2 separate regions of the Homo sapiens genome follow, and region 2 is linked to region 1. The links come from fine-mapping of genetic effects on gene expression. A gene starts in region 1. The other region holds a variant in brackets. All regions are shown on one strand. Distances are between the middles of the regions. Region 1 holds the start of BCKDK (branched chain keto acid dehydrogenase kinase). Region 2 has its middle 9.7 kb from the start of PRSS36.

Region 1 (9,765 bases):
AGTCTGGAAAGTGAGGAGCGTCTCTGCCCGGCCGCCATCCCATCTAGGAAGCGAGGAGCGCCTCTTCCCCGCCGCCTTCCCATCTAGGAAGTGAGGAGCGTCTCTGCCCGGCCGCCCATCGTCTGAGATGTGGGGAGCACCTCTGCCCCGCCGCCCTGTCTGGGATGTGAGGAGCGCCTCTGCTGGCCGCAACCCTATCTGGGAGGTGAGGAGCGTCTCTGCCCGGCCGCCCCGTCTGAGAAGTGAGGAAACCCTCTGCCTGGCAACCGCCCCGTCTGAGAAGTGAGGAGCCCCTCCGTCCGGCAGCCACCCCGTCTGGGAAGTGAGGAGCGTCTCCGCCCGGCAGCCACCCCGTCCGGGAGGGAGGTGGGGGGGGTCAGCCCCCCGCCCGGCCAGCCGCCCCATCCGGGAGGTGAGGGGCTCCTCTGCCCGGCCGCCCCTACTGGGAAGTGAGGAGCCCCTCTGCCTGGCCAGTCGCCCCGTCCAGGAGGGAGGTGGGGGGGTCAGCCCCCCGCCCGGCCAGCCGCCCAGTCCGGGAGGTGAGGGGCGCCTCTGCCCGGCCGCCCCTACTGGGAAGTGAGGAGCCCCTCTGCCCGGCCAGCCGCCCCGTCCGGGAGGGGGGAGGGGGGGTCAGCCCCCTGCCCGGCCAGCCGCCCCGTCCGGGAGGGAGGTGGTGGGGGTCAGCCCCCCGCCCGGCCAGCCGCCCCGTCCGGGAGGTGAGGGGTGCCTCTGCCCGGCCGCCCCTACTGGGAAGTGAGGAGCCCCTCTGCCCGGCCAGCCGCCCCGTCCGGGAGGGAGGTGGGGGGGTCAGCCCCCCGCCCGGCCGGCCGCCCCGTCCGGGAGGTGAGGGGCGCCTCTGCCCCGCCGCCCCTACTGGGAAGTGAGGACCCCTCTGCCCAGCCAGCCGCCCCGTCCGGGAGGGAGGTGGGGGGGTCAGCCCCCCGCCCGGCCAGCCGCCCAGTCCGGGAGGGAGGTGGGGGGATCAGCCCCCCGCCCGGCCAGCCGCCCAGTCCGGGAGGGAGGTGGGGGGATCAGCCCCCCGCCTGGCCAGCCGCCCCGTCCGGGAGGTGAGGGGCGCCTCTGCCCGGCCGCCCCTACTGGGAAGTGAGGAGCCCCTCTGCCCGGCCAGCCGCCCCGTCCGGGAGGGAGGTGGGGGGGTCAGCCCCCCGCCCGGCCAGCCGCCCCGTCCGGGAGGGAAGTGGGGGGGGTCAGCCCCCCGCCCGACCAGCCGCCCCGTCCGGGAGGGAGGTGGGGGGATCAGCCCCCCGCCTGGCCAGCCGCCCCGTCCGGGAGGTGAGGGGCGCCTCTGCCCGGCCGCCCCTACTGGGAAGTGAGGAGCCCCTCTGCCCTGCTTGAAGGCAGCATGCTCGTTAAGAGTCATCACCACTCCCTAATCTTAAGTACCCAGGGACACAAACACTGCGGAAGGCCGCAGGGTCCTCTGCCTAGGAAAACCAGAGACCTTTGTTCACTTGTTTATCTGCTGACCTTCCCTCCACTATTGTCCTATGACCCTGCCAAATCCCCCTCTGCGAGAAACACCCAAGAATGATCAATAAAAAATAAAAATAAAAAAAAAAAAATAAAAAAATAAAAAAAAAAAAAAAGAAAGCCGCCTGACCTGTATACAGTATTCTGAAAAGGGGGTCGCGAGGTGCATGTCCAACCTCCGCCGCCGGGGGCAGCAGCGAGTCCAGGCCGAGCCGGGGCCTAGCGAGCGGGGTCAAATGGGGTGAGGCCTGTGCCAGACCTCTCCACCTCGGTGGCAGCCGCAGCCTCCTCCGCCTGCGGCTCCTGTCCACGCCGCGGCCACGTGAGCGCCAGATTCTGGCGCACAGACCACTGCCAGTCCTTTGCTGCTTTGCGCAGCCTGTCCTCCCCGCCAGGAGCACCCTTCCCGCTCCCTTTTACCACGGGCTCCAGCCGTGGCTGCCTTGGGGCTGCCGCCGCCTGGCTGTACTCCAGGACGTTGGGAAAGAACGGGTGGGAATGGTGTGGGTGGGGGTCAAAGAGGAAACCCAGAGATGCAGGGCGCCCCTTTCCCGTGGTCTGCCCCCAATTGCTCAGGCAGGCCAGTCACGGTGAGGCGTCCTCCCTCCAAGTTTATATTTATTATTATTTATTATTTATTTTTTTCACCTTCAAGTTTATTATTTATTATTTATTTATTTATTTTTGAGACGGAGCCTCTCTCTGTCGCCCAGGCTGGAGTGCATTGGCACGATCTTGGCTCACTGCAACCTCCGCCTCCCGGGTTCAAGCGATTCTTCTGCCTCAGCCTCCCGAGTAGCAGGGATTACAGGTGCATGCCACCACATCCGGCTAATTTTTGTATTTTTAGTAAAGACAGAGTTTCACCATATTGGCCAGGCTGGTCTCGAACTCCTGACCTCAGGTCATCTGCCCGCCTTGGCCTCCCAAAGTGCTGGGATTACAAGCATGAGCCACTGCACCTGGCTAACCTCCAAGTTTAAAGACAGCCGCCAGGCCCAGTGGCTCACTCCTGTAACCCCAACAACTCAGGAGGCTGAGGCCAGGAATTTGAGACCAGCCTGGGCAACATAGCGAGACCCCGGCTCTAAGAAAAATAGGCCAGGCACGGTGGGTTACGTCTGTAATCCCAGCACTTTGGGAGGCTGTGGCAAAAGGATTGCCTGAGGGGGAAAAAATCACCCTGGGGGTAGTGGTGCACACTTACAGTCTCGGCTACTTGAGAGGCTGAGGTGGGAGGATCATTTAAGTCGGAGGCTGCAGTGAGCTACTATGGAGCGACTGTATTACAGCTTGAGCAACAGAGCGAGACCCCATCTCCAAATAAATAAATAAAGATAGCCTCCAAAGATGTCACTTGCTTCACTTAGCACTTTTTATTGAACATATTTAGGAAATATATAACCATGGTAAAGAAAATTGCAATTAGTACAAATACACACTACACACATATGCACGTGCACACACTGAAACGTGTCCCTTCCAGCGCCTCCTGCCTGGATAATTTTTTTTTTTTTTGCAACGGAGTTTTGCTCTTGTTGCCCAGGATGGAGAGCAGTGGCGGGATATCGGCTCACTGCAACCTCCTCCTCCCGGGTTCGAGCGATTCTCCTGCCTCAGCCTCGCGAGTAGCTGGGATTACAGGCGCCAGCCACAACACCCGGCTGATTTTTGTATTTTTAGTAGAGACGGGGTTTTGCCAAGTTGGCCAGGCTGGTCTGGAACTCCTGAGATCCGCCCACCTCGTCCTCTCAAAGTGCTGGGATTACAGGCCTGAGCCACTGCGCCTGGCCTAAAGTAATTGTCTTCTTATTGGTTTCTCTGCCTTTGGTCTCACCAAACGCCCCACTCTAAATCACTGCAGACAAGGGGTTCTGTCTAAGGAGGAGAGCCCACCAGTTAAAACCCTTCAGTAGTTCCTAACTACCCTAGGACAAATGCAGACTTATCCTTCGCTCTCTGCTGCCGCCCCTCTCCTTCCCAGATCCCATATGGCTCCAGCCATATCCTCAGACCATCTGGGCTGTTGTCTGTCCTGCCACACACCCTTCCCACCCCGCTCCCTTGCAAGTCCTACTCAGGCTGCACCTACACAGCTGTCTCAGTTTCTATCTGAGGCTCCCGCAGCCTCCTCTGAAAGTCCTCATCACAGCCAATGATACTGAAACTGTTTTCTTATGCAGGGCACGGAAAGATCTATTCAACTCACTGCCCAATCTCCTCTCCTGGTGCAGAAAAGACACCCAGTCAGCGACTTGCATTATCTGCAGGCATGAGTGAATAATAATAATGCCTAACCCTTATATAGTGCTAATTCCACGCCTGGCACTGTTCTAGGCACTCATATAAATTCATGTAATCCACACAACCCCAAAACTGATGATATCTCTTCATCTTACCAAGCACTGAGCAGTTAAATAACTTGCTCCAGATATTAAGGGGTCGAGCTGGGGTTTGAAGCCTGGTTACCCATAAATGAACCAAGAACTGGAAGGAGGACAAGAGCTCCGAGAAGGAGTCAGGTAGGGCGTGATCTGTGCGCTTTACATCTAAGATCTTCCAGCTCCCAGGGAGCCCGTTTCATAGAGCAGGAGATAGAGGCTGGGAGGGACACGGAGAGCCTCGAGAGCCGTGTGGAGGAAGCGGTGCTGTTTGGGGTCCGGGAGCAAGGGCGTGGCCTGGATGCGCGGGCGCCCGGGACGGCACGTCCTCAGACCAAACTACAACTCCCAGGACCCAGCGGGCGCTGCCGCCCACGCGACGTCACGGCGGCGGAGGGCGCAGGCGGCTGGGCGCCTGGCGAGTGGACTGTTCGAGCCCTTCCGCTGGGACCCGGGCCCTGGCTCCGGCCCCGCGGTAAGTGGGGCGACCCCAGCCTACTCAGTCCGCGGAGGCCCCGCGGCGCACGTCCGCAGCCTCCATCACAGCGCGGGCGCGCAGACGGGGCTGGCATCTACCATATGGGGGGCATCCGGGCCGAACCAAGTGACCCGCGTGGGGGGTCCCGCTGGGGACTCCGTGCCGCACCCTCCCAAGCCGGCCCCAGGGGCCCAGGGCTGGTGTCGCACGTTCGCTGGCCGCGCTCCCAGGGCCCGGGTTTGAAGGCGCTGGGCAGGCAGGGGCAGCCCCGCCCCCTGAGAAGGGTACCCGGGACCCCGGGGCGCTGGGGCGAGGTTTTCGGGCTGGAAGGGTCTGAGGGGCTCCTCCCCCGACAGCCCTCCCACCGCCAGTAGAGCCTCGGGTTGGGGAATAGAAGCCCCCGGGAGGCTAGGTCCTTTGGGCGCGGCCTGTGTGCATCTGGGGAGACGGTGGGAGTGGTGGGGAGAGGTCGCCCGGGTCTGGGGAGACCGATGCACAGGTGGAGAGATGGTGCGGGTTCTGTGGATTCGGATCCTTACAACTTCCTCTTCCCCGCCCCGGTAGATGGGAGCTGCTCTCCGCGGGCTGAGCCTGTCAGCATCCTCGACGCACCCTGGTCCCTGAAGTCGGAGAAGAGCCCCTACCCACCCACACCCCCTTGCCCCATTTTGGGTCGCCTGGGTCCTCAGTCCTAGCGGATCCTCAGTCCTAGCGGCCACCGGGTCTGAAAGGAGCAAGACGATGATCCTGGCGTCGGTGCTGAGGAGCGGTCCCGGGGGCGGGCTTCCGCTCCGGCCCCTCCTGGGACCCGCACTCGCGCTCCGGGCCCGCTCGACGTCGGCCACCGACACACACCACGTGGAGATGGCTCGGGAGCGCTCCAAGACCGTCACCTCCTTTTACAACCAGTCGGCCATCGACGCGGCAGCGGAGAAGGTGCGCAAGGGGGCAGCCAGCCCAGGGTCCGGGATGTAGGCGGGAGGGAGAGTGTTGGGGGTTCTCTGCTCAAGGCCTCTCTCCCTCTCTAGCCCTCAGTCCGCCTAACGCCCACCATGATGCTCTACGCTGGCCGCTCTCAGGACGGCAGCCACCTTCTGGTAAGATTCACGCCCTCTATTTTCCTCGTGGATCCTGGAGCTCTCCCAGACACTCAGGCTCCAGCCCCGCCTTCCCTTCTCATTTTCTCCCAGAAAAGTGCTCGGTACCTGCAGCAAGAACTTCCAGTGAGGATTGCTCACCGCATCAAGGGCTTCCGCTGCCTTCCTTTCATCATTGGCTGCAACCCCACCATACTGCACGTGGTAAGGTAGAGAGGACCTTAGGTCAGCGGGCCACCCTGCCCCGGGGGCAAGTGGGGAGTCTGGGGCCCAGAGTGGCAGACGATTGCTTGCCTAAAGGTGTCAGGGCCACACAGGATTCAACCCCAGGCCTTCAGAAGCCAAAGGTGTGTATTCACGGAGCCTGGAAGGGTCGAAGTGGGGGTTTGATCACGTGGTCGACCAGCTGGGTGGTGATCCCCATGGGTAGGTGGGGGTGGCTGTTCTCTGCTCAGTGCCCATGCGGCTTTGTGAATTCCCACACCTCTTCCTTGCAGCATGAGCTATATATCCGTGCCTTCCAGAAGCTGACAGACTTCCCTCCGGTGAGTGCTGGGCCAGAGCAGGGTGAGGGGCTGAGAGGTTGGGCTTGGACCACCCTTCCTCATGACTCTGTGACCTGCAGATCAAGGACCAGGCGGACGAGGCCCAGTACTGCCAGCTGGTGCGACAGCTGCTGGATGACCACAAGGATGTGGTGACCCTCTTGGCAGAGGGCCTACGTGAGAGCCGGAAGCACATAGAGGTTGGGGCAGCAAAGGAGAGGCCGGGCCTGCTGGGGGTGGGAAGGGCACGGGATTCTGAGACCTCACTCTTTACAGGATGAAAAGCTCGTCCGCTACTTCTTGGACAAGACGCTGACTTCGAGGCTTGGAATCCGCATGTTGGCCACGCATCACCTGGCGCTGCATGAGGACAAGGTGGGGCTCTGGGACCTGAGACCCACCTGGGAACATTAAGTGAGACAGAGGAGACTGGGCTGGGGATCCGGGTCAAGGGCCTGGGGGCTGAGGCTGTGGGGCTGGTGCTTTGGGGCAGTTCCGAAGTTGCCAGCATCTTGGGGTGGGGCTAGGGGCGTGGGTAGTCCTGACCTCCTTTCTCCGGCCAGCCTGACTTTGTCGGCATCATCTGTACTCGTCTCTCACCAAAGAAGATTATTGAGAAGTGGGTGGACTTTGCCAGGTGAGGCAAGAATGGCTCAGGGGGTGGGCAGACATCTGGGGCAGGGAAGGCTTGGGTCTGAGCCCTTGCCCGGGGCATGATCTGCGGGGAGCAGGGTTTCTCAACCATGGCACTATTGACATTTCCAGCCAGATAATTCTTTGTCACAGGGGCTGCCCCGTGCACGTTAGGAAGTTCAGCAGCATCCCTGGCGCCAGCAGTACTGCCTAGTTGTGACAAACAAAAATGTCTCTGCACATTGCCATATGTTACTTAGGGGGGCAGAATTGTTTCCAGTTGCAAACCACTGGTGGAGGGGCCCCTGACTGAACCCTCGCTCCTATCCGCAGACGCCTGTGTGAGCACAAGTATGGCAATGCGCCCCGTGTCCGCATCAATGGCCATGTGGCTGCCCGGTTCCCCTTCATCCCTATGCCACTGGACTACATCCTGCCGGAGCTGCTCAAGAATGCCATGAGGTGGGGTGGCTTGATGTGCTGGCTTGGGGGCGGACAGGAACCGGGGTGCTTGTACCTACTGGTCTTTCCCCTCTGCATAGAGCCACAATGGAGAGTCACCTAGACACTCCCTACAATGTCCCAGATGTGGTCATCACCATCGCCAACAATGATGTCGATCTGATCATCAGGTTTGCCCTGAGTGGGAGTTGAGCTGAGGTGGATGGGATGGGGGTCTAGGCACTGTTTCTGACTTGATTTAGGACCTTGAGCCCCTTCCTGCCCCATTCTGGGACTTGGTCCCTGACCAGACAAACTATTCTCTGAATCCTGAGATGGCCATGAGCTGCTTATTAATGGATCTGGGGCCAGCTGCAGGCCTAGGTATCCTGCCTCTGTCAGCAGCTGAGGAGCTTGAAATTGAGAAATAGTCAGGAGTCGGTCTAGGATGCTGGGCCGAGGATAAATGTCACATCCTGTGAGAAGGTATAAGCAGTCAGTGGCCCTGGCAGGGGTGAGGATGATATAAACAAGGCCCAAGGGTCTAGGTGGACCACATTCCAGCTCTGGGTGGAAGGAACAGGAAGGCAGACTTTGCACTGTCTGCTTGGGGGGTGGTGAGTACCCCATCAAAGCTGAGCCAAGCCCATTGTTGTTGCCATCTTGCTAGGATCTCAGACCGTGGTGGAGGAATCGCTCACAAAGATCTGGACCGGGTCATGGACTACCACTTCACTACTGCTGAGGCCAGCACACAGGACCCCCGGATCAGCCCCCTCTTTGGCCATCTGGACATGCATAGTGGCGCCCAGTCAGGACCCATGCACGGGTGAGACCCTGCCAGGCCAGGATGGAGGGGTGGGGGACCCCAGGAGACTCAAGCCTCTGAAGCCTCCTGTCCTGTCCCCCTGCCCACCCCCAGCTTTGGCTTCGGGTTGCCCACGTCACGGGCCTACGCGGAGTACCTCGGTGGGTCTCTGCAGCTGCAGTCCCTGCAGGGCATTGGCACGGACGTCTACCTGCGGCTCCGCCACATCGATGGCCGGGAGGAAAGCTTCCGGATCTGACCCCACAGCCTTTGGCCTGCTCACCCGACCAGCCTGGGCCGCATTCCCTGCAGGACCTCCCGGGTCAGGCAGGGCGGCCCCCTGCTCCACACACTGCTGCATCTTGGGTCTCAGGGACCCAGACAGATGGACTTACATGGAGCTGGGCACTGCCCTGCCTCAACAGGGTCCATTGCCTCCTCGCCTCCAGAACTTGGAGCAGGGAAGTGGGCACCCTGAGGCCTCCAGCACCAGTTCCGTCATTCTCGTTCCTGGGGAACCCCCACTCTGACCTGTTATTAAAGTTCACATTTTGAATGCCCTCTCGGGCCCCGTGTGTGGGGAGGGCAGGTGAACTTTTGTTTCTGCCCCCATTCAGGTTCACTGAGCCCTTGGGTTGAACTGGTTCGTGTCCCAGTCTCTTACCTGCCCTGAGAGCCTGGCAGGCCAGGAGTAGAATGGGTCCCAAGTCTGTTGCATGTTTGATTTGGTGGGAGTGGGATGACTGCAGCACCTTATACAAAGAGCTTTCATTCATCTTGTTGAACAAATGTTTCCGGGTCCCAGATAATATTGAAGGCCCAGACTGACCCAGCTTCGGGCATCAGTTTTGACTCTTCCTTTCCTGGCAGTCACAGTTTCTAGAGGTGAAGGTCACCAGACTGGGCAAACTCCTGAGCCAACTGCTTCCCAAGCCTGAGTAGGTTAAAAATACTGTGTCTGCTGCTGCCAAGGAAAAGAACATACAAGGTTGTGCCTTGGCAGGCCCTAGCAGGGACTGGGTGCCCCACTGCAAGGAAAGGTGGGGCCCTGATAGAAAGGACCAAGGATTTGGGCAAAGATATCAGGTAGGCTCAAGGTTAGACCTGAATCAGAACTCCAGATGACATCTTAGGTAGGAACACCCTACCCACCTTGCCAGGGAAGAAAGGCCTAAGGGCGGCCTGGTGGGGCTGGGAGGAGAACTGGAAAGTTCTCTTGCCTTCACATGTGAGCTCCCACAGCAAACTTCCTGAGGCTGGCTCTAGGCCTGTACCATCTCCTACCCTTCACGGGGATGGAGGGGAAGTTGTATGTGGAAGCCAAATGGCAGGGGCTAGGAAACCACAGTGACTTGCTAGACTGAAAAATCCCGCCAGCTGCAAGGCAGGGTGCTGAGGCTGGAGAGGCAGGCAGCAGTCAGAGGCCAGGGCCCTGAAACATGGGATTTATCTTGAGCCATAGGGATCCATGGGTGAGTTTTTATTTATTTAGAAATGGGGTCTTGCTCTGTTGCCCAGGCTGGAATATGGTGGCTGCAGAGTTCACTGCAGCCTTGAACTCCTGGGATCAAGAGATTCTCCCACCTCAGCCTTCTGAGTAGCTTGGACCATCATGCCAGGCTAAATTTTAAAATTTTTTGTAGAAACAGGGTTTCTACAAAGCCCTATGTTGCCCCGGGCTGGACTTGAACTTCTGGGCTCAAATGATCCTTCCACCCCAGCCTCCCAAAGTGGTGGGGTTACAGGCATGAGCCACTGCAGCTGGCCCATGAGTGGGTTTTGAGCTGGGAAGGGATGTTTCTGGTTGGAGTCCCTGAGAGGATTCATGTCCACGTGATTTCTTAAGAAAGTGCTCCCAGAACAGAGTAGGGGAAGTAGGAAGGGGAAGGGG
Region 2 (9,765 bases), 51 kb after region 1:
TGGGAGGCTGAGGTGGGCAGATCACTTGAGGTCAGGAGTTCGAGACCAGCCTCGCCAACACAGTGAAACCCCGTCTCTACTAAAATTACAAAACTTAGGCACGTCTCTACTAAAAATACAAAAAATTAGCCGGGCATGGTGGCAGGCGCCTGTAATCTCAGCTACTCGGGAGGCTGAGGCAGGAGAATCGCTTGAACCTGGGAGGCGGAGGTTGCAATGAGCTGAGATCACACCACTGCACTGCAGCTTGGGCGACAGAGTGAGACTCCGTCTCAAAAAAAAAAAAAAAAAAAAAGACCAGGCGCAGTGGCTCATGCCTTGTAATCCCAGCACTTTGGGAGGCTGAGGCGAGAGCATCACTTGAGCTCAGGAGCTTGAGACCAGCCTGGAAAACATAGTGAAAACTTCATCTCTATTCCTAAAAATAAAAATTAAGAAAAGATAACTGGCAGAATAGACGAAAGCTAAACATATGCCTGTATTTTGACCCAACAATCAAGATCCTAGGTATAGACCTAAGAGAAATGAGGGTGCCATAAGGCATATGCAGAGCATGGCACTCATAGAAGGTCTAGATACAAGAGCCAAGATCCAGAACATAAATGTCCGGCCCCAGGAAAATTGATAAATTGTGGCATAGTCATACACTGAAATACTATGCAGCAATAAAAAAGAATGAATTACTGATATCTGCAACAACATGGATGAATCTTACAGATTTTTTTTTCAACAAATATGTGTCATATTGCATGATTCCAATTATATGCAATTTAGGAACAAGCATAACTAATCCCCAGTGGTAGAAGTCAGAATAGTGGCCGGACACGGTGGCTCACACCTGTAATCCCAGCACTTTGGGAGGCTGAGGCAGGCGGATCACTTGAGGTCAGGAGTTCAAGACCAGCCTAGCCAACACAGTGAAACCCTGTCTCTACTAAAACACAAAAATTAGCCGGGTGTGGTGGCACATGCCTGTAATCCCAGCTACTCAGGAAGCTGAAGCAGAAGAATCGCTTGAACCTGGGAAGCGGAGGTTGCAGTGAGCCGAGATAGCACCACTGCACTCCAGCCTGGGTGACAGAGCAAGATTCCATCTCAAAAAAAAAAAAAAAAAAAAAAAGGAATCAGAATAGTGGTTGCTTCTGGTGGAAGTATTATATTATGTGGGAAGGAGCACAGAGAAACTTGCTAGAGTGCAAGAAAGTTCTAGATCTTGATGTAGGTGTGTATATACACAGGAATATACACATGCAGAGTTTCACTGAGCCGTACCCTTAAGATCAGGACTCTCTATGAACTTAGCTAGAGATGCTGAGGTGGGAGGATCTCTTGAGCCCAGGAGTTTTGAGACTAGCTTGGGCAGCATAATGAGACCCCATCTCTAAAAAAAAAAAAAAAAAAAAAAGTTTACACCTGTATCCCAGCACTTTGTGGGGCCAAGGCGGGTATATCCCCTGAGGTTGGGAGTTCAAGACCAACCTGACCAACACAGTGAAACCCTGTCTCTACTAAAAAAAAAAAAAAAATACAAAATTAGCTGGGCATGGTGGTGCATGACTATAATCCCAGCTACCTGGGAGGCTGAAACAGGAGAATCACTTGAATCCAGGAGGCAGAGGTTGCAGTGAGCTGAGATCGTGCCATTACACTCCGGCCTGGACAACAAGAGCAAAACTCCGTCCCCAAAATAAATAAAATAAAATAAAAATTAGCCAGGCATGGTGGCATGCACCTGTAGTCCCAGCTACTCGGGCTGAGGTAGAAGGTTCACTTAAGCCCAGGAGGTCGAGGCTGCAACGAGCTATGATTGCACCACTACACTCCAGCCTGGGTGACAGAGCGAGACTCTGTCTCAAAAAAGAAAAAAAAAAAAAAAAGAAAAGAAAAGAAAGAAAGAAGGAAAGAAAAAAAAAACTATATGGTTATTCCACATGAGTAAAAAGAAATTAAAAGAGGCAAAACACACTTTGCAAATAAATGGATTCCAGAGTCAATTAAGAAAAAGCCAAACGAACTAGCTCCAGAAATGCTTTCCTGGACCAAAAACGTTGGGAAAATGTGCAGCTTTACATCCGATAACACCAGGGCATGTGTGTAATGTTGTTTCTGAAAGCTTAGCTAAAATAATGAAACCCTTCAGCATTTGGAAAAACAAGAAAAGCATGCTTAACCAAAGATGTTGATATTATGTTTCCTGATAAAAGAGATCATGTTTTTTAAAGGATTTTGGTAACAGGTTACTTTTTTTCTGAATTGGCTTTGTCACTAAAATGTCTGGTTATCACTGACCTACAAAAAAAGGCATTCTTCAGATAATCCTTGATAGTATTGTTGCTCTCACCACACTTTCCAAAGGTGCTGACCAGAGGGAGCAGAAGACTGTTTCACAGCTCAAGCACACAGCCGCACGCGCTCCACACCAGCGAAGCCCAGCAGTGCCGCATCTCATCGTGAAAAGAGGAAGCCAGAAGCTGGGAGTCACTCCACTTCTGGTCAGGGCTGTTCTGTGGAATATACTGTGGGCAGGGCCACATGTCTCCTCGAAAAATAATCTGGGCTGTCTGTCCTCATGCACACCAGAATGGGTGCCATGACAGAGAAAGCTGCATTTTATTTTCATTTTTTATTTGAGACGGAGTCTCACTCTGTTGCTCAGGCTGGGGTGCAGTGGTGCAATCTCCACTCACTGCAGCCTTTGCCTCCTGGGTTCAAGTGATTCTCCTGCCTCAGCCTCCCAAGTAGCTCGAATTACAAGTGCCCACCATCATGCCCAGCGAATTTTTGTATTTTTAGTAGAGACAGGGTTTCATCATGTTGGCCAGGCTAATCTTGAACTCCTGACCTCAAGTGATCCACCCGTCTCAGTCTCTTAAAGTGTTGGGATTACAGGCGTGAGCGCAGCCACTGCAAACATTTGGTTTGTAAAACTCTTTTTTTTTTTGAGACGGAGTTTTGCTTTTGTCCCCCAGGCTGGAGTGCAGTGTTGCGATCTCAGCTTACTGCAACCTCTGCCTCCCGGGTTCAAGTGATTCTCCTGCCTCAGCCTCCTGAGTAGCTAGGATTACAGGTGTCCACCACCATGCCCGGCTAATTTTTTTGTATTTTTAATAGCGATGGGGTTTCGCCATGTTGGGCAGGCTGGTCTCCAACTCCTGACCTCAGGTGATCTGTCCGCCTCAGCCTCCCAAAGTGCTGGGATTATAGGCGTGAGCCACCACACCCAGCTGGTGTATAAAACTCTTAAAGCACGTGTCACTCCTTTTGGAGTGCCTGCTAAAATACAGAATACTTAGCTCAGTCTGAATTTGAGATAAACGATTTTTTTTTTTTTTACTATAACTAGGTCTCAGGAAATACTTGAGTTATATTGAAAATTATTTGTCGGGCCAAGTGAAGTGGCTCACACCTGTAATCCCAGCACTTTGGGAGGCTGAGGCAGGTGGACTGCTTGAGCTCAGGAGTTTAAGATCAGCCTGGGCAATATAGTGAGACCCCATCTCTACAAAGAGTTTTTTAAAAAATTAGCTGGATGTGGGCCAGGCGTGGTGGCTCAAGCCTGTGGTCCCAGCACTTTGGGAGGCTGAGGCGGGCGGATCACGAGGTCAGGAGATTGAGACCATCCTGGCTAACACAGTGAAACCCCGTCTCTGCTAAAAAGAAAATACAAAAAAATTAGCCGGGCATGGTGGCGGGCACCTGTAGTCCCAGTTACTCGGGAGGCTGAGGCAGGAGAATGTCGCGAACCCAGGAGGCAGAGCTTGCAGTGAGCTGAGATAGCGCCCCTGCATTCCAGCCTGGGTGACAGAGCGAGACTCCGTCTCAAAAAAAAAAAAAAATAGCTGGATGTGGTGGTGTGCACTTGGGAGCTACTTGGGAGGCTGAGGTGGGAGGATGGCTTGAGCCCAGGAGGCAGAGGTTGCAGTGAGCCATGCCACTGCACTCCTGCCTGGGCAACAGAACCAGACCCTATCTCAAAAAAAAATTATTTGTGTTTCCAATAGGCACAGGGCTCACGTCTGTAATCCCAGTGGTCTGGGAGGCTGAGGCAGGAGGATCACTTGAGACCAGGAGTTCGAAACTGCAGTGAGCTATGATTGCACCATTGCATTCCAGCCTGGGTGACAGAGCAAGACCCTGTCTTAAAAAAAAATTATTTGTGTTTACCTGAAATTCAGATTTAATCGGGCACTTATTTTATTTGCTAAATCTGGTTGGGAGTGGTGGCTCATGCCTATAATCCCAGCACTTCAGGAGGCTGAGGTGTGAGGATTACTTGAGTCTAGGAGTTCGAGACCAGCCTGGGCAACGTAACATAGACCCCGTTTGTACAAAATTTTTTTGTAAAATAAAAAAGGAGTAAAATAAAATTTTTTGCTAAACCTGGCAACCCTGTTCCCTATTCCATAATATTATCTTGCTAAGTCACTATATTGTTGCATATCTGCTTGGAAGAAATAACTTTTTTTTTTTTTGAGACGGAGTTTTGCTCTTGTTGCCCAGGCTAGAGTGCAATGGCACGATCTTGGCTCACTGCAACCTCCACCTCCTGGGTTCAAGTGATTTTCCTGCCTCAGCCTCCCCAGTAGCTGGGATTACAGGTGTATACCACCACTCCCAGCTAATTTTGTATTTTTACAATTTTGTATTCTGGAGTATTTTAAATACGATAGAGTATTGTATTTTAAATACAAAATTGTATTTTACAATTTTGTATTTTAGAGACGGGGTTTCACCCTGTTGGCCAGGCTGGTCTTGAACTCCTGACCTCAGGAGATCTGCCCGCCTTGGCCTCCCAAAGTGTTGGGATTACAAACATGAGCCACTTCGCCTGGCCAGAAATAACTTGTTCTCAGAAAAAACTTGGAGTTAGAATGTTATTCTATGAGGGACCCTCTGAGTGGGAATATTTGAGAGACTTGATAAAATTGGGAACATGTTGTGTGTTGACTCCACGCTTGACTGATATGATCAAGACATCCCCTTGGTGCT[C/T]CCTCTCGTGGCAAGAAGAGTAACTGCTCCTTCAATTTCACTCCCAGACTCTGCCCCCACCTCCCCACCCACCTCTTGGTCTCCAGGGACCATGCTGGTACCCTGAGCCTGTCGGAGCCAGAGATTGCCCCAGGACTCAGCGCTTTAGCCTCAAATGAGTTGCCCTACTTCAAAGGGACCTCACTTTGTGAGATGCACTGTATAGAATTTTTTTTTTTTTTTGAGATGGAGTCTCGCTGTGTCGCCCAGGCTGGAGTGCAATGGCATGATCTCAGCTCACCGCAACCTCTGCCTCCCGGGTTCAAGTGATTCTTGCCCCAGCCTCCCGAGTAGCTGGGATTACAGGCATGTGCCACCACGCCCAGCTAATTTTGTATTTTTTAGCAGAGACAGGGGTTCTCCATGTTGGCCAGGTTGGTCTCGAACTCCCAACCTCAGGTGATCCGCCCACCTTGGCCTCCCAAAGCGCTGGGATTACAGGTGTGAGCCACCGTGCCTGGCCCTAATTTTTGTATTTTTAGTAGAGACGGGGTTTCACTATGTTGGCCAGGCTGGTCTTGAACTATTGAGCTCAGGTTATCCACCTGCCTCAGCCTCCCAAAGTGCTGGGATGACAGGCATGAGCCACCGTGCCTGGCCATTGTATGCAATTTGGAGGGTGGTTCCTGAGACACAGAGAGAACAATCCGAGTTGGAGTCTGAGGAGGTGGCAGCTCATTGCTGGGAGAGAGACGTCCTCCTGCTTCTGAGGGGAGCAGTTTTGGGGTGCTCCTGCATAAACTGTATGGGGTCCGGGAGAGCTCTTGGGGGCAAGAGAGGAGGTCAGGATGGGATGGGGGTGAGGGCGAGGTTTTTGAGTCATGGCTGGAGGCAACAAGGCTTATGGCCCTGACTTGGAGGCCTGAGCACAGCGAGCTTTCTGAACCCCTCTGGAAAACAAAGGAGGTGGGGTGTTGCAGGACCTCAGGTACTCAAGCTGAGCAGCCATTTCTCCTGCAGGTTGTTTGTATTTTCTGAATTCTGAACATCTGAAACGAGAATGCGTATGAGAGGGGAAGCTGTTTAGATAATGAAAACCCATTGAGATTAGTTTAATCAAACACACAGGGACACGGACAGGCGTGGTGGCTCACGCCTGTAATCCCAACAGTTTGGGAGGCTGAGGTGGGTGATCATCTGAGGTCAGGAGTTTGAAACCAGACTGGCCAATATGGTGAAACCCTGTCTCTACTTAAAAAAAAGTACAAAAAATTAGCAGGGAGTGGTGGCTCACGCCTGTAATCCCAGCACTTTGGGAGGCCGAGGCGGGTGGATTGCCTGAGGTCTGGAGTTCAAGAGCAGCCTGGCCAACATAGTGAAACACCATCTCTTCTAAAAATACAAAAAATTAGCTGGGAGTGGTGGCGGGCACCTGTGATCCCAGCTACTAAGGAGGCTGAGACAGGAGAATCGCTTGAACCCAGGAGGCAGAAGTTGCAGTGAGCCAAGATCGCGCCATTGCACTCCAGCCTGGGCAACAAGAGTGAAACTCCGGGCTAGATGAGGTGGCTCACGCCTGTAATCCCAGCACTTTGGGAGGCCAAGGTGGGCAAATCATGAGGTCAGGAGGTCGAGACCAGCCTGGCCAACATGGTGAAACCCCCTTTCTACTAAAAATACAAAAAATTAGCTGGGTGTTTGGTAGTGGCAGGCGCCTGTAATCCCAGGCTGAGGCAGGAGAACTGCTTGAACCTGGGAGGTGGAGGTTGCAGTGAGCTGAGATTGTGCCACTGCACTCCAGCCCTGGTAACAGAGTAAGACTCTGTCTCAGAAAAAAAAAAAAAAGAAAAGAAAAAGAAAAAAAAATTAGCCAGGTGTGGTTGCAGGCACCTGTAATCCCAGCTACTCGGGAGGCTAGGCAGGATAATCGCTTGAACCTGGGAGGCGGAGGTTGCAGGGAGCCGAGATCGCGCCACTGCACTCCAGCCTGAGCAACAAGAGTGAAACTCAATCTCAAAAAAAGAAAAAAAAGTGTTTGTCCCTGCTTAAAAGTCTCTGTGGCGGCTCTAGGCTCTTATAATAAACTCAAGCTCTCCTTGGTCGCTGCTCACTGTCCCGGTCCCCGCCTGCTCCCTGTGTTCCTTGTTGCCATGCCTCAGAAAATTGAGGAAATCAAGGTCTTTCTGCTCACAGCCCGACAAAAGGATGCCAAATCTGTCAAGATCAAGAAAAATAAGGACAATGCGCCGGGCACGGTGGATCATGCCTGTAATCCCAGCACTTTGGGAGGTCTAGGCGGGTGGATCACGAGGTCAGCAGTTCAAGACCAGCCTGACCAACATGGTGAAACCCCGTCTCTACTAAAAATACAAAAAATTAGCTGGACATGGTGGCGGGCACCTGTAATCCCAGCGACTTGGGAGGCTGAGGTAGAAGAATCGCTTGAAACTGGAAGGCGGAGGTTGCAGTGAGCCGAGATTGCACCACTGCACTCTAGCCTGGGCAATAAGAGCAAAACTCTGTCTCAAAATAAAAAAAAGAAAAAAAAGAAAAAAAAAGAAAAATAAGGACAATGTGAAGTTTAAAGTTCGATGCAGCAGATACCTTTATACCCTGGTCATCATTGACAAAGAGAAGGCAGAGAAATTGAAGCAGTCCCTGGCCACCATGCCTGGCTAATTTTGTATTTTCAGTAATTCTGTATTTTAGTAATGTAGTATTTCGTATTTTAGTAATTTTGTATTTTAGCCTCCAGAGTAGCTGGGACTACTTGGATGCCACCACGCCCAGCTAGGTTTTTACATTTTTTGTAGAGATGGGGGTCTTGCTATGTTGCTGAGGCTGGTCTTGAACTCCTGGCCTCAAGGAATCCTCCCACCTTTGCCTCCTGAAGTGTTGGGATTACAGGCGTGAGCCACTGCTTCCAGCCATTGGTAAATTTCGCACAATTTTTGTACTGGCCCAGAGAGTTTTGCATATCGTCAGCCACAGAAAAAGTAGCAAGTAACAATTATGTTACACAAACAGCCACATAATTGTCCCTGGTAGACTAAAGTAAACCATATCTGTTTCTCCAATTTTACACTCTTTCATGGTTAGGTTTTTTGGCGATCCGATAATGTGTTTCTTCTTCTGCCACCACGGAGAAAAAACACATATTCACCTAAAAATACTAAAGTCAAATTTACTAATAAAAATGTCTTCCTATTTCGATACGCATCATCAGGTTAAAAAACCCTCTGAGGCTGGGCGCAGTGGCTCACGCCTGTAATCGCAGCACTTTGGGAGGCTGAGGGGGGCGGATCACCTGAGGTCAAGAGTTTGAGACCAGCCTGACCAACATGGAGAAACCCTATCTCTACTAAAAATACAAAAGTAGCTGCGTGTGGCGGTGCATGCCTGTAATCCCAGCTACTTGGGAGGCTGAGGCAGGAGAATCGCTTGAACCCAGGAGGCAGAGTTTGCAGTGAGCCGAGATCGTGCCATTGCACTCCAGCCTGAGCAACAAGAACGAAAACTCTGTCTTAAAAAAAAAGAAAAACAGCTGGGCGCGGTGGCTCACACCTGTAATCCCAGCACTTTGGAAGGCCGAGGTGGGTGGATCACGAGGTCAGGAGTTTGAGACCAGCCTGGCCAACATGGTGAAAACCCGTCTCTACTAAAAATACAAAAATTAGCCAAGCGTGGTGGCGCATGCCTGTAATCCCAGCTACTCAGGAGGCTGAGGCAGGAGAATTGAGGCTTGAACCTGGGAGGTGGAGGTTGCTGTGAGCTGAGATCACCCCACTGCACTCCAGCCTGGGCAACAGAGGGAGACTCCGTGTCAAAAAACAAAACAAACAAAAAAAAACAACAAAACAACCTAAAAAACCCTCTGAGGCTGGGCGTGGTGTCTCATGCCTGTAATCCCAGCACTTCAGGAGGCTGATGCATGAGGATTGCTTGAGTCTGGGAGTTCCAGACCAGCCTGGGCAACACAGCAAGACCGTCTCTATAAAACAAACAAACAGACCCCTTCTCAAATGAGAAGGAAATCTTCCAGCTTTATTACATAATGTTTTCCCACAGCCTTTTTATTTTAATTATTATTTTTAAAATCGGGGGCAAGATGGTCTCACTATGTTGCCCAGGCTCATCTCCAAGTCCTGGGCTCAAGCCATCCTCCCACCTCAGCTTTCTAATTTGCTGGGATTACAGGCATGCACCACCATGCTCAGCATCTTGTTAATTTTTTTTTTTTTTTGAGATGGAGTTTCACTCATTGCCCAGGCTGGCGTGCAATGGAGCATTCTCAGCTCACTGAAACCTCTGCCTCCAGGGTTCAAGCGATTCTCCTGCCTCAGCCTCCTGAGGAGCTGGGATTACAAGCACCTGCCACCACACATGGCTAATTTTTTTGTATTTTTAGTAGAGACGGGGCTTCACCATGTTGGCCAGGTTGGTCTCGAACTCCCGACCTCAGGTGATCCGCCTGCCTCGGCCTCCCAAAGTACTGAGATTACAGGCGTTAGCCAAAGAGCCTGGCCTAATTTTTGTATTTTTAATGGAGACGGGGTTTCACCATGTTGGCCAGGCTGGTCTCGAACTTCTGACCTCAGGTGATCTGCCTACCTCGGCCTGCCAAAGTATTGGGATTACAGGTGTGAGCCACCGCGCCCGGCCTCCTTTTTAATTTTGTAGGCAAAACTTTCCAAAATAATTTCTTATGAAGTTTCCACTAAAGAAAGAAAACAGTTGCTAAATTCTATGGTTTCTAAACAGCTAATAGACAGGCGCCTTAGGGCAAAATTCTTACTT

The links. PIP is the estimated chance that this variant, and not a neighbour inherited with it, causes the effect.
Region 2: its variant is fine-mapped to the expression of BCKDK in whole blood (TOPMed, PIP above 0.99).

The regions. Positions count from the first base shown.
Region 1 is chr16:31,104,133-31,113,897 of GRCh38, forward strand. BCKDK (branched chain keto acid dehydrogenase kinase) reads left to right here and starts at 4,254. Exons shown (of 12, transcript NM_005881.4): 1 at 4,254-4,347; 2 at 4,915-5,286; 3 at 5,379-5,447; 4 at 5,541-5,651; 5 at 5,945-5,992; 6 at 6,073-6,192; 7 at 6,269-6,367; 8 at 6,556-6,629; 9 at 6,959-7,087; 10 at 7,168-7,257; 11 at 7,737-7,895; 12 at 7,989-8,659. The coding sequence starts at 5,092. The coding sequence ends at 8,133. RefSeq lists enhancers at 1,554-2,370, 3,978-4,871, 4,872-5,764 and a silencer at 4,107-4,646.
Region 2 is chr16:31,154,864-31,164,628 of GRCh38, forward strand. No RefSeq gene overlaps it. Among named protein-coding and RNA genes, the nearest start is that of PRSS36, 9.7 kb to the left of the region's middle. The variant C/T (reference allele first, on the strand shown) is at 4,990.